Homo sapiens: one gene and its partner. The protein of the gene in region 2 interacts with the protein of the main gene of each other region in a pairwise test. Each region holds a gene or a part of one and is shown on either strand. Other genes may lie near its edges.

Region 1 (4,559 bases), on a different chromosome or scaffold from region 2:
AAACTATCTCTCTAGAAGGCCTGATGGGCCACAACCTGGGCCAGAAGCATTCAGTTCAGATATGAGAATGGTGGGTGTAGGGGCAATGGCCAATGGGCCATGGCCGGAAGGAAATTGTTACAGAGTAGTGGGAAGCCTGCAAAGACTGGCTTCTGTCCGTTTTGCCTTGGTTTGCCCATGTGGATATTCTTTGCCAATATTTTCTGCCCAAGAGCTGTGCTTGCTAGAGTTGGAAACTGGATGAAAAGGTGAAGACTTTTTTTCTTCTCAACAGCTCACAAAGAAAGTGAACAACATAGAGACGGGCTGGGCCTTGGGGGCCACCTTTCACCTGTTGCAGTCTCTGGGCATCTCCCATTGAGGCCACGTACTTCCTTGGAGACCTGCATTTGCCAACACCTTTTTAAGGGGAGGAGAGAGCACTTAGTTTCTGAACTAGTCTGGGGACATCCTGGACTTGAGCCTAGAGATTTAGGTTTAATTAATTTTACACATCTAATGTGAACTGCTGCCTAACCACTCAAGAGTACACAGCTGGCACCAGAGCATCACAGAGAGCCCTGTGAGCCAAAAAGTATAGTTTTGGAACTTAACCTTGGAGTGAGAGCCCAGGGACAGGTCCCTGGAAACCAAAGAAAAATCGCATTTCAACCCTTTGAGTGCCTCATTCCACTGAATATTTAAATTTTCCTCTTAAATGGTAAACTGACTTATTGCAATCCCAAGACCCATCAATATCAGTATTTTTTTCCTCCCTATACAGTGCCCTGCCCACCCTTATCTGCACCCACCTCCCCTGAAAAAGAGAGAAAAAAAAAAACCTGGTTTTGCTTTCCATGTATAATTCAACAACGCAAAATGGGACCATGTCAGAATCTGTATGATCCTATTCTGTGTTAGCTCCAATCAGCCAGCTGAGAGCCATCCTAAATATTAATAGGATGAGAGAGTAACTCCTAACTGTGCATAAATTACAGCCTTAAGAAAGAAGGCCACCCGGTCTCTGGGGACATGTTTTGGGAGGGTGTGGCTGCCTCATATAGCCTACCTTTGCTTTAATCAGCATTTTATCAGTCAACTCTGGGATTAATGAACATATCCGACTTTATGGGTATGTGTATATTCAGTGCCAGTACCACCTCCCAGGCTAATGTGTTAACAGTGTTTTCTATGATTCTAAACTTGTTTTCTTTGTATTTCTAAGAAATACAACTAGGCCCTAACTTTTGGTCTGTGGTCAGAGGTCAGTGTCTGTGCTATTCCAGGATCTATTATTTCAGTTTGCCCTTTTATTCTCTCCGTTTGTAACAGTACCTTCCTGTCCTGGTCCCTGATCACTTTAGCTAATATCCTTTGAATTATTTATCTAGTTCAGAGTTTCCAATACCGTTCCTGACAAAACCCCACTTGGATTTGGTTGGCTCTCTCAGCCCACATCAGTACAGTGGACCAACATTTCCAGGGAGAACCATATTTAATGTCCCTCATGCTCTCTTTTTGAATCCAAGTGCTCAGAGCTCTTGACTGTGAATTATTTACCCCAAATTCATTATCTTGCACTTTTTTTTGAGATGGAGTCTTGCTCTGTTGCTCAGGCTAGAGTGGAGTGGCGCAATCTCAGCTCACTGCAACCTCCGCCCCCAGGTTCAAGCGATTCTTGTTCTCAGCCTCCTGAAGAGCTGGGATTACAGGTGCCCACCACCATTCCTGGCTAATTTTTGTATTTGTAGTAGAGATGGGGTTTCACCATGTTGGCCAGGCTGGTTTCCAACTCCTGATCTCAATTGATCCACCCGCTTCCCAAAGTGCTGGGATTACAGGCATGAGACACCGCGCCTGGCCTTATCTTGCACTTTCAACATAATCATCCCTGCTTCTCATCTGCCCTGCAGTGCTCTTGGACCTGGAAGATCTCCCTGTGGTCTGGCCCCTTTGCCTTGGTTGTTAACCTCCAGCTTCTTTGCAGGAGTGTATTTCCCCAAAACTTGTGGCTTTCACAGTAGACTCCGTTTCCATCCTCTCTCTCACAAAGGATGTTAAGTATGCCTGGCCCTCACACAGTCCATGGGAAACCTTATTTTTAACATTACTCCATTGAGTCAATAAATATTTACCATCTGCTGTGTGCAAGTTACTAGGCAAATTTCTGTATCCTTGTCCCTAAAATTCTTGTCTTTAAATTCATTGTGGAATTTCTTTAGACTTCACACTGACTTTTATTACTAAGGTCACCTTTATACCAACTGCCTTCCTCAAAATGCTTATAATGAAATAACAGAATCTTGAGTTGGAAACAGCCCAAAGAAATAATCCAATGTTGTACTCAGTGCAGAATTCCCTAGAATTTCTAACAGGTTGTCATTCAGCTTCTGCTAAGCCATGTTCAAACAGCTTATTCCATTTGGAACTGCACTGATATTAAAAAAAATTCCTTATATTGAGCTGAAATCTACCTATCTTCTAAGTGGTCTTAGTTCTGCTCTAATCTCTCCTTCCAAAATCTTTGGATCTTTTGAAAAAAGTTCCTCCCAAGTTCTTTTATAAGTGACATGACTTTTAGACCCCTTCCCATCTTTGTCAACAAAAGTAGGGTGCCAGACCAGTCACAGAACACTAAATGTCATCCATGTTTCCTTCAGTAGAAACCAGCAGTTTTAAAAGAGGTAAGCTGTGTTCACTAAAGACTGTTCCAGCTTGACAAATGCAGAGATATAAGTCTCTGGTCTTTAATCACTGTGGGGGCCATTTTGTAAAACACACATACTGTCCAGCAGACTCCTTTGGTCATCCCAAATACCTCTGAACTCCAGGGAAGATGCATTCTAACTCCACGAACTTACCTATTTTGTTAACCTTGATTAGACCTTCTGGAGAAGTAACCAATTTGTCCATCTTAGGAGCAATTTGGAATGAGAGTTTTTATTTTTTTCTGTAACGCCCATCCTGCCTGCAGTAGACCCTTTGGGCTTAAGAGGTCCTACAGATTCTAATAGTTTCCTCTTTGTAGATGTGTTAACATATTTAAAATACTTAGGACATGGCCTGGTACGTGACAGATGGTGTTTAACATCATTGTCATATGAAGAACACTCTCTGTGGGCCAATGGAGGTGTGCCTTAAAATTCTTCATCTTGCCTGATTTTGTTTGCATAACTTCTGGAGAGTCTGTGTCCTCCTCATCTAGGCCACCTTTCCATTTTTTGTGAAAGATGACCTTGTCCCTGCAGTCTCCGCCAGGAGTCACACAGCTTTTCACAGCAGCTGCCATCTTTAATTCTTTTTCCTGAGATTCCAGCAAGGTTGTGACATTGTCACTTTTTTGTTCTAGACTCTTTTAAATTTTCTGCATTTGCCTGAAAAGCACCCCTGTAAGAATAGATTTCTCATGGCTCTAAAAATTATTCCCAAGAATACCTTACTTGGTTCAAAAGCAGACTGTTTCTCTTCATTTCATCTCAAATCAGACTTCTGGGCAAGATGTTCTTTAGAGTAAGCAAACCTACAACCTAAAAATCTCTTCAAGAGGCATCTCTGGTCTTGTGACGAGACCTCTTCAAAAACCCACAGTAAAACTCCCCTCCCTCCAGTTGGCCACCAGTCTGCCACCAAACATGAACAAATTCTGCTGCTAATCGGTTTCCCTTGTGATCTGGTTCCTGAGGTCTTCGGATCTGTGCAATGAATTATTTATTGTTTTATTAAACCGACAGTGGTGTCCCAGAGAGGAACCATAAATAAAATGGAAATCTGGTGCTGTGATAAAGTAATAACTAGCATTAATGAGACCTGGTTTTCCTTTCAGAAAGTCCAGTATACCTGTAACAAAGGTTAAAGCAATTTATATTTAATTTGCATTCTGATGTTAACATTTAAACAGCAATTCTAACAAAAATGCATCGAGTCTAATTCTTACCTCTATCAAAAAACAACTGTATAAATTTATGACCAACATTAAAACAAAAACAAAATGTAAATTTTCTCTTTAGAAATGATTAACTGGAAATGAGTGAGACAGCACCTTGTGGGTTTTTTAGTAATAAAAAGCTCTTTTCAACCAAATTGTAAGTCTTCCTTCGAAGTTTTTTCCTTTGGTCTGGCTAATATACGCTCCTCACAGCAAATTATCATTCATTATTTGGGTGCCACAGGCCCATTAAGCAAAGAAGAAAAAGAGAATTTTAATGTAAAGTAAGTTTATTAAATTAAATAAGATCTTGAAAATATGTATGATGGGTCCTGGGCAGGATGTTCTTTTTCATCAACGTAATCTTTCTTTAGGAGAGGAGTACTCATTTGCTTGCAAAGGCCATAATCTGTTCCTGGAGAAAAAATAAAAGTGAATGAAACTCTTAACACAGTAAGGTGAAGAAAATAATTATTGTAGATAATAATCACGTAGGTATTCTTCCCAAGTGTCCTTGTTTTATTTCAGCTAAAAAAAGAAAAATATACATACATATACACACGTTTTAGAGACAGGGTCTCACTCTGTTGACTGGGCTGGAGTGCAGTGGTGTGATCATAGCTCACTGCAGCCTCAAACTCCTAGGCTCAAGCAA
Region 2 (8,560 bases):
TTTATACACACTCACACATGTATATTCATTCATGTTTTCTCTGCTAAAGGAGGAATCAGTTTTATTGTTTGTACTGGACTATACACAAATGTAAAAATCATTTCATCATTTCAGAAACTTGAAGAAGCTGAAAGAAAAAGCCAGCACCAGCTCGAGAATTTGGAACGAGAACAGAGATTTTTAAAGTGGCGACTGGAACAGCTGCAGGGTCCTCAGGAGATGGAACGAATACGAATGGACAGCATTGGATCAACTATTTCTTCAGATCGTTCTGATTCAGAGCGAGGTAGGCAGCTTGCCTCTTCTCTAATGAAATACTAAACATCTCTGTATCTGGATTTAGGGAAGGTATGTTGGGAGGCACTGTATTTGCTTTCTTTCTAGCCAACAGAGTAACATTGTAGGTTTTATGCAATCATAATATTGTCTACAGCAGTGCCAGTGTGGACTATAAAACTTTTTGTTTTTTCCTTGAAAAAAAATATATTTATATATTTATATTATAAATTATATAATGTCCCTCAATTTAGGTTTGTCTGATGTTTTCAAATGATTAGATTGAGGGTATACAGTTGGGGTAAGGAATATCACAGAAATGATGTTGTGCCCGGTGGCTCATGCCTGTAATCCCAGCACTCTGGGAGGCCAAGGCGGGCAGATCACAAGGTCAGGAGATCGAGGCCATCCTGGCTAACATGGTAAAATCCTGTCTCTACTAAAAATACAAAAAATTAGACGGGCGTGGTGGCAGGCGCCTGTAGTCCTAGCTACTCGGGAGGCTGAGGCAGGAGAATGGCGTGAACCCGGGAGGCGGAGCTTGCAGTGAGCCGAGATCATGCCACTGCGCTCCAGCCTGGGCAACAGAGTGAGGTTCCGTCTCAAAAAAAAAAAAAAGAAAAGAAATGATGTTGTGCCTTTCTCAATCCATTGTGTCAGGAAGATACACGATGTCGAAGTTTTTACTACTGGTGATGTGAATTTTTATATGTAGATTTTAAAGTACAACACCCTTTATTTCTCTTTCCATCTATCCTAGAATATTTATCTTTGACAGAGTTAAAGAACAGAAGTCAACCAAAAAAGAATGGTTTGAATTTTACTGATTGTTCTTCCCAAAGCTTCCACCACATCAGGCTTCATATCACATTAAAAGATCCCAGAGGTGAACACTGGTGATTTGAAGTCTTACATTTGGAGAAAGGAGCTCATGAGCTCTTTAGGATTCTAAAACATGAGACAAGTGACAGAGTTTTTTTGTTTGTTTGTTTTTAGGACTCTGATTTTGTTTTTTGTTTTTGACTTTTTTAAGTGGAAATTTTCAAACATACTTAGAATAGAATAATGAACTCCTGTATACCCACCATTCAGTTTGAATAGCTGTCAACTTGTTTCATCTGTTCTTCACTACGCTCACCCTCAATATTTTTTCTGGAATGCTTTAACTCAAATCCCAGATAACATCATTTTGCCCCTAAATACTTTAGTATGTATCTTGAATAAATAGGATTTTTAAAAATGTAATTATAATGCTATTATAATACCCCACAAAATTAATTCAGATAATCTTTTTTAATATCATCTAATACCCAGTCTGTGATACATTTTCTCCAGTTGTCTCAAAAATGGCATTTTACCATTGGTATGTTTAAATCAGGATCCAAAGGCCACATTGCATTTGTTTGATGTGCCTTTTAAGATATTAATCTATAATAATTTTTTCTCTTCCCCCTACACCGTTTTGGTAGAAACAAAAACTGATTTCTACATAACATCTCAAAAAGACTTCTTTGGCAGAGAAAACATGAAGGAATATATAGGTATAGATCTGTGTGTTGTATATATGTACATATTTTTTTAAACATCAAGAGACTGAGTCATTTTTCTTATAGAATTTCCTACATCCTAGATTTGGCTGGTTGAATCCTCATGGTGTCATTTAACATGTTATGTCCTTTATATTGACTGTAAACTGGTTGGTAGATGCAGAATACTTCATAGGTGGTGCTTTGTACTTCCTGTTATGTCAGTATTGTGTGTAGTTGTTGTTGCACTTTTAATATTAATCAATAGGTTCAGGTAAGGTCATTTTAATACATTTATATAAATGTATAGCCTTTAACTTAACAGTTTTAGCAATTATTGCCCTTATTTCATTGGGTGTCATAAAATAGTGATTTTCTAATTGTGTCATTCCTCTTGTATTTATAAACTGTTTTTCTCCTATAAACATTTTCTCATCAACTTTTCGGTTATCCTGAAATAAAGTTCATACAGGGAAGGTGGGATAAATGCTTGGTCTTGGTTTTTGCTTTATCAGTTTTCCAAACAGAGTTGGTAACCTAGCAGCTTCCAGAAGTAACAAGTTTTGGTTTTACTATTTTTTGATTATATCATGAACTCATGTTTTGCTGTACTGAATGTGTTCCAATCCATTGCAGTCATCCTTTTAAATTCTTTTGAATGCTCAAACTGTCCCAGATTTGCTGAGTAGGAGCCTTTTAAATAGTTTTTTCATCCTTTTTAACGCAACCTTTTTAACACAACCCTAGGAGTTCTTGTTTTTCTGTTTTGTTATTTTTCTATGTAAAAGTTTATTTTTGTGTGGCAGTTTTCAAGAAAAGTCTACCAGAGGCAGTAGCAAGAACCTGAAGTACATGCTACATTTATCAGTAACAGTGAAATATAGCAGAAATAACCCTGACCTTGGTGTCCCAGTCTTTCCTCTATTGCTAACTAGCGGAAACCTCTTCTTAGGTCTTTAGGTTTTAGCTGTCCTTCCTGTTACCTCCTCCTTGTACCCACCCCAACTACCTCCAAATTTCAGAGAGGAGGGTGTATTTTCATCACTATAGCTCTCATTTTTTTTTAGTGTTCCCAGTGTACCTTACTTTAGCGGTACCTTACCAAGTACCATCCTTATCCTGAGCTGGCAACCTCCTTTTTGTAGTGTTATGGGGGCTTTTAGTTAACATCTGTGGTACACTTGGCTAAAGCAGTTTCTCATTTTACTTTGTTTTTTTGGGTTTTTAAAAAATTTTTTTAAACATATTTTTAAATTTTATTAAAATAGAGATGGGCCTTGTTGCCCAAGTGGTCTCAAACTCCTGGGCTCAAGCAATCCTCCTGCCTTGGCTTCCCAAAGTGCTGGGATTATAGGTGTGAGCCACTGTGTTGGCCATCATTTTACTTTATTTTGACTGAGTTCAGCATGCTCTTTTGGATAGTGTGCCTTGTTATTATCTTCTAGTTGTAGGTTGGATGAGTGTTCAGTGGTGCTGGGAAACAATGGCTTCTGAAGCAATTCGGATATAGAGCCAATATATGAATTCACAGATTATTTGGACAGCTGCCTACATTTTAAAAACATCTCTAGAATCTCTAAAACTTTTGAAGCAACAAGCCCTTTTGAAAAGTATATTCCTGGAAATAGCTTCACCCTGTCCTTTTGGCCTCACAAGAATCCACTTTTTTTTTTTTTTTGAGAGAGAGTGTCTCGCTCTGTCGCCTAGGCTGGAGTGCAGTGGCGTGATCTTGGCTCACTGCAACCTCTGCCTCCTAAGTTCAAGTGTTTCTGCTGCGTCAGCCTCCCAAGTAGCTGGGACTATAGGCGCGTGCCACCATGCCCAGCTAATTTTTCTATTTTTAGCCTAGACACGGGGTTTCACCATATTGGTCAGGCTGGTCTTGAACTCCTGACCTCGTGATCCACCTGCCTCAGCCTCCCAAAGTGCTTGGCCGCACCCGGCTGAATCCACTTTTTTTTTTTTTTTAAAGCAGTTGTGATTAGTGTGAACCCTTAAAAAGTCAGTGCCAAATGTGAAACATCAGGCTTTGAATTTAAGTAAGGTAACTGAAAAATCCTGGGTTTCACTCTAGCTCTGATGGGAGAAAACAACTTTTTAACTCCTTTTTGTTTTTAACATGTGTATTGATTTATGTATATTATTGATGATTGAATATCTAGTATTTAACAATTAAGATTTTTTTTTTTATTTTTAAGAGACAGGGTCTCACTCTGTCACACAGGCTGAAGTGCAGTGGTGAGACCTTGGCACACTGCAGCCTCAACCTCCTGGGCTCAAGAGTGATCCTCCCACCTTGGCCTCCCGAGTAGCTGGGACTACTGGATCACCCACTATACCCAGCTAATTTTTGTGTTGTTGTGTTTTTTTTGGTAGAAATGAGGTCTCACTTTGTTACCCAGGCTTGTCTCAAACTCCTGCACTCAAGTGATCTTCCTGCCTTAGCCTCCCAAAGTGCTGGGATTACGGACGTGAGCCACTGCGTCCAGCAACATTATCTATTGATAGCTGAGTCAAATATGTATTTGTGGTGTTTTTTTTTTTTAATGTTTGGCTTTTAAGTCTGTATACTACCACCAAAATGGATCTCACTATAATCTGAAGACTTTTAAGTCTCAGGCCCTTATTTCAAGCTATATTTGATGCAAGAAAATTAAATCTAAGACATATACCTCAAACTCTACTTTATAATGACTTGTTTGACTGACTAGTTGAAGATCTTTATGATGAATCCTAGAAGTCTGTTGAACTATCTGTAGAATGGCACCACCAAAGGCTTGGATGGGTAAATTTTCTAGTTTGCCTATATTAAGTTTATGCTCCTGCCCACCCTTTAAGGCAACCCTGATTAATAAACAGAACTGAGAATTAGTTTGTGGTTTAATGCAAAACAGATGTTTTTAAACCACTTGGGGGTTGGGACCTTTTAATATTAAGCACTAATTCCCAAATACGCCAAGTGCTTTAGGGAGGTCCAGACGGACTGGCGTCAAAGGATTTAGGAAATTTGCTGCCTAAATTAAGACCACCACTGTATATCAGACATTCCCCTTGGCAAAAAATATTCCTGTCTCTTCACCTTGTTCCTCTGTTCTCCAGACATCACTGATAATAAGCTTGTTGTGTAACATTTCTTATACCTCTTTTCCTCATGCTGTTAGTTTTTGAAGGTGCGCTATACTCGATAATTAATGTTCTTCTTTTTTTTTTTTCCTTTGGCAGAGGAGATTGAAGTGGATGTTGAAAGCACAGAGTTCTCCCATGGAGAAGTGGACAATATAAGTACCACCAGCATCAGTGACATTGATGACCACAGCAGCCTGCCGAGTATTGGGAGTGACGAGGGTTACTCCAGTGCCAGTGTCAAACTTTCATTCACTTCATAGAACCCAGCATGACATAACAGTGCAGGGCAAAATATTCACTGGGCCAATTCAATACAAACAATCTCTTAAATTGGGTTCATGATGCAGTCTCCTCTTTAAAACAAAACAAAACAAAACAAAACTATACTTGAACAAAAGGGTCAGAGGACCTGTATTTAAGCAAATACTTAGCAAAAAGTGGGGCAGAGCCTCCCAAGGAGAACAAATATTCAGAATATTCATATTGGAAAAATCACAATTTTTAATGGCAGCAGAAAACTTGTGTGAAATTTTCTTGATTTGAGTTGATTGAGAAGAGGACATTGGAGATGCCATCCTCTTTCTCTTTTCTAGTTTGCTCATACTACATTGAGTAGACACATTTAAGGATGGGGTTATGAACCCTTCCTGAGCTTTATGGTCCTAAAAGCAAAATAAAAACTATTCGAATGAAAAGACAAGAAAATCAGGTATTAATCTTGGATAGCTAATAATGAGCTATTAAAACTCAGCCTGGGACAGTTTATCATGAAGCCTGTGGATGATCAATCCTTTATTATTATTTTTTTTTTTTGAAAAAAGCTCATTTCATGCTCTGCAAAAGGAGAGACTCCCATGAAGCCTTTTGAAAGGGATCATCATGCAGCTCAACTTTCTGTTGGATTCCATGCTAAGCAAGCTAACCTTATCCTGCATTGTTAGCACTAGGCACCCAGCTGCCACCTCTCCATCCTGCTGCCCTTAGGCCACATGGGAGCAGTCCATGCATGACAGCCTCTATCCTACAAGGCCTATGAGTATGGATTGGGGGGGCCAAAAGGAAAAAGCTCCATGTGCCTCTTTGTCTGCGTGGGTCAGAAGAGTTGTGCACGCAGATTAGCAGGCCAAGGTCTGAGCCACAGCAGCATTTTTATTTCAGATTTTGATAACTGTTTATATGTGTTGAAAACCAAAATGACATCTTTTTAAAGCTTATCCATAAAAAAAAATAGATGTCTTTTATAGTGGAAAAACACATGGGGAAAAAAATCATCTATTTTGATGCAGCATTTGATAATGATAAAACACCTCACACCTCACTCTTTATAGTGCACAAAATGAATGAGGTCTGGGCTAGGTAGAAAAAGGGTCAATGCTATTTTTGTTTTTAGAATCATTACCTTTTACCAGCTTTTAACCATCTGATATCTATAGTAGACACACTATCATAGTTAACATAGTAAGTTCAGCACTTGTCTCATTTTAATGTAAAGATTTGCTTCCATTTTCCTACAGGCAGTCTCTCTCTTCCTCACAGTCCCACTGTGCAGGTGCTATTGTTACTCTTACGAATATTTTCAGTAATGTTATTTTCTTCTAAGTGAAATTTCTAGCCTGCACTTTGATGTCATGTGTTCCCTTTGTCTTTCAAACTCCAAGGTTCCCTTGTGGCCCTCTCCCTTACCCTGGGAAGGCCTCTTGGAGACCTTACCCCTGGCTGTTTGGACTTTGTATACTTTAAATAATTTAACTACCCTTAATTACTTAAAAAAAAAAAAAAGCTTTATGATTTTCATAACTTATTGCTGATTTTAATGGATTGTTAATTTCAGTCCTGTAGTTTTATTTTATGTTTAGATAGGGCTGGGCAAGGAAAAAGAAAATAAAGACAACCATATTTAGCAGTGCAGTTGAGTTGTGTGTTAATGTTAGACTATCCCTTTGTGAGTGACACTTTAACAGCATTCACTGCTTCTATATATAGTGTACCATCTTGGTCATACATTACGCCTCAACATATACTTGTGCTCTTCCTTTGCCTCCAGAAGAAGTTTTTCCTTGATTGTGCTATGTTTCAGTGGAAGAAATTCTTTGAAGTAGATGTGAGTGAAAAACTGCATGCCTTTAGAAGCCCAGTATCAGAACTTGCTACGTTTCAGGTGCTAGGGACTTAATGAAAAACAGGACAAAACAATTCCTTTTTGTGGCCCAGGTAAATTATTTCTGGTTTCACTTATAATTACTAATGGCTGAGTCAAGATGTTGTCTCTGTGTTTGCTTACTCTTGATCAAGTGTGAGACAGTTTGAAGACTGTGCTACCATACAAAGTGAATGAAGCCAGTGACTAAGCTTCTGTTTGTTTTGTTATTCTCATGGCCTTCGCTTGCATTATTTGGGCCTTCATTCAGATGAACTTGAGGTGCCATTTTGTTGCATATGTACAGGATTATGGGCTGGAAAGCATTTGTTATAAACCTATAGTGCACATTTTAACTGCCCCCTAAATTACCCTTCCCTGGGTTTGTTTTCCTTGGGGTGGTGTAGATTGTATGAGTAAGAAGTATTAATTTTTTAAAAGACAAATCAACTTTGAAGACACAAAAGTTAATTGGAAGAAATAAAAACTGTGAACGAAGAATACCTTTCTTTTTGTACCATCCTTCTTTATGAAGGCAAAAACATGAATGGGTATCCACACCTTAAGAGGTAACTATCTCCTAAATGTCTGTTGATACCAAATCAGTATCAATGCCAAATCAAATGGCAGTTTGAATTATAATTGCCATTCCTGTTCTGCAATTTAAACAGGAGCCTGACTGGTAACTCCATATAACCTAACTGCATGTGGTTTAATGTGCCACATTAATAATAATATTAACTGCCTCAGGTAGGACACAAAGCCATTCTCATGATCTGTTCTCTAAATAACTTTTGGGAGCATCCTTTAGCTACACTATTATTCAAATTGCAAACAAGTCTGGAAGTTCCACTAATCTTATTTAGGGTACCCTATTTATAGAACACCTGAGTGACATTTATATTAAAAGGTACAGGTAGGCCAGGTGCAATGGCTCACACCTGTAATCCCAGCACTTTGGAAGGCAGAGGTGCGCAGATCACTTGAGGTCAGGAGTTTGAAACCACCCTGGCCAACATGATGAAATTCCGTTATCCACTAAAAAAAAAAATACGAAAAATTAGCTGGGCGTGGTGGCATGCACCTGTAGTCCCAGCTACTCAGGAGGCTGAGGCAGGAGAATCTTGAACCTGGGAGGCGGAGGCTGCAGTGAGCTGAGATCGAGCCACTGCACTCCAGCCTGGGCAGCAGAGCGAGACTCCGTCTCAAAAAGGTACAGGTAAAACCTACTGTAGCGCGTTATGACTAGAGGATTCTGAAGTCACTGCAACTCAAGTTTCTGGTTAGAATAGGTATGAGAACTCCTACAGAAATGCCTTTCTAATCTCCCTGACAATGACTGCTTTTAGCATTATGAAGGAATTTTAAGAGGCAGTGAGGATTATTGAGGCAAAGTTGCTGACCAAAATCAGGTTCCCAACAGTTAACCCAGAACAGTAAAGTGTGGGAAAAGCAAGTGTTTTAATTACACTGTAATCCCAGTTCCAACATTGCT

Evidence for each region.
Region 1: the proteins of MXI1 (region 2) and ENTPD5 interact in binary tests that used the Homo sapiens proteins (3 or more experiments, as listed by UniProt).

The regions. Positions count from the first base shown.
Region 1 is NC_000014.9:73,962,730-73,967,288, reverse strand, and holds the end of ENTPD5 (nucleoside diphosphate phosphatase ENTPD5 isoform 1 precursor), read left to right. Parts: intron 1-274; coding exon 275-361; 3' UTR 362-4,059; downstream 4,060-4,559. Other genes in the region: COQ6 (ubiquinone biosynthesis monooxygenase COQ6, mitochondrial), read right to left, coding at 4,290-4,319. UniProt on the Homo sapiens protein: Hydrolyzes nucleoside diphosphates with a preference for GDP, IDP and UDP compared to ADP and CDP. In the lumen of the endoplasmic reticulum, hydrolyzes UDP that acts as an end-product feedback inhibitor of the UDP-Glc:glycoprotein glucosyltransferases.
Region 2 is NC_000010.11:110,279,800-110,288,359, forward strand, and holds the end of MXI1 (max-interacting protein 1), read left to right. Parts: intron 1-114; coding exon 115-286; intron 287-5,024; coding exon 5,025-5,188; 3' UTR 5,189-7,566; downstream 7,567-8,560. UniProt on the Homo sapiens protein: Transcriptional repressor. MXI1 binds with MAX to form a sequence-specific DNA-binding protein complex which recognizes the core sequence 5'-CAC[GA]TG-3'. MXI1 thus antagonizes MYC transcriptional activity by competing for MAX.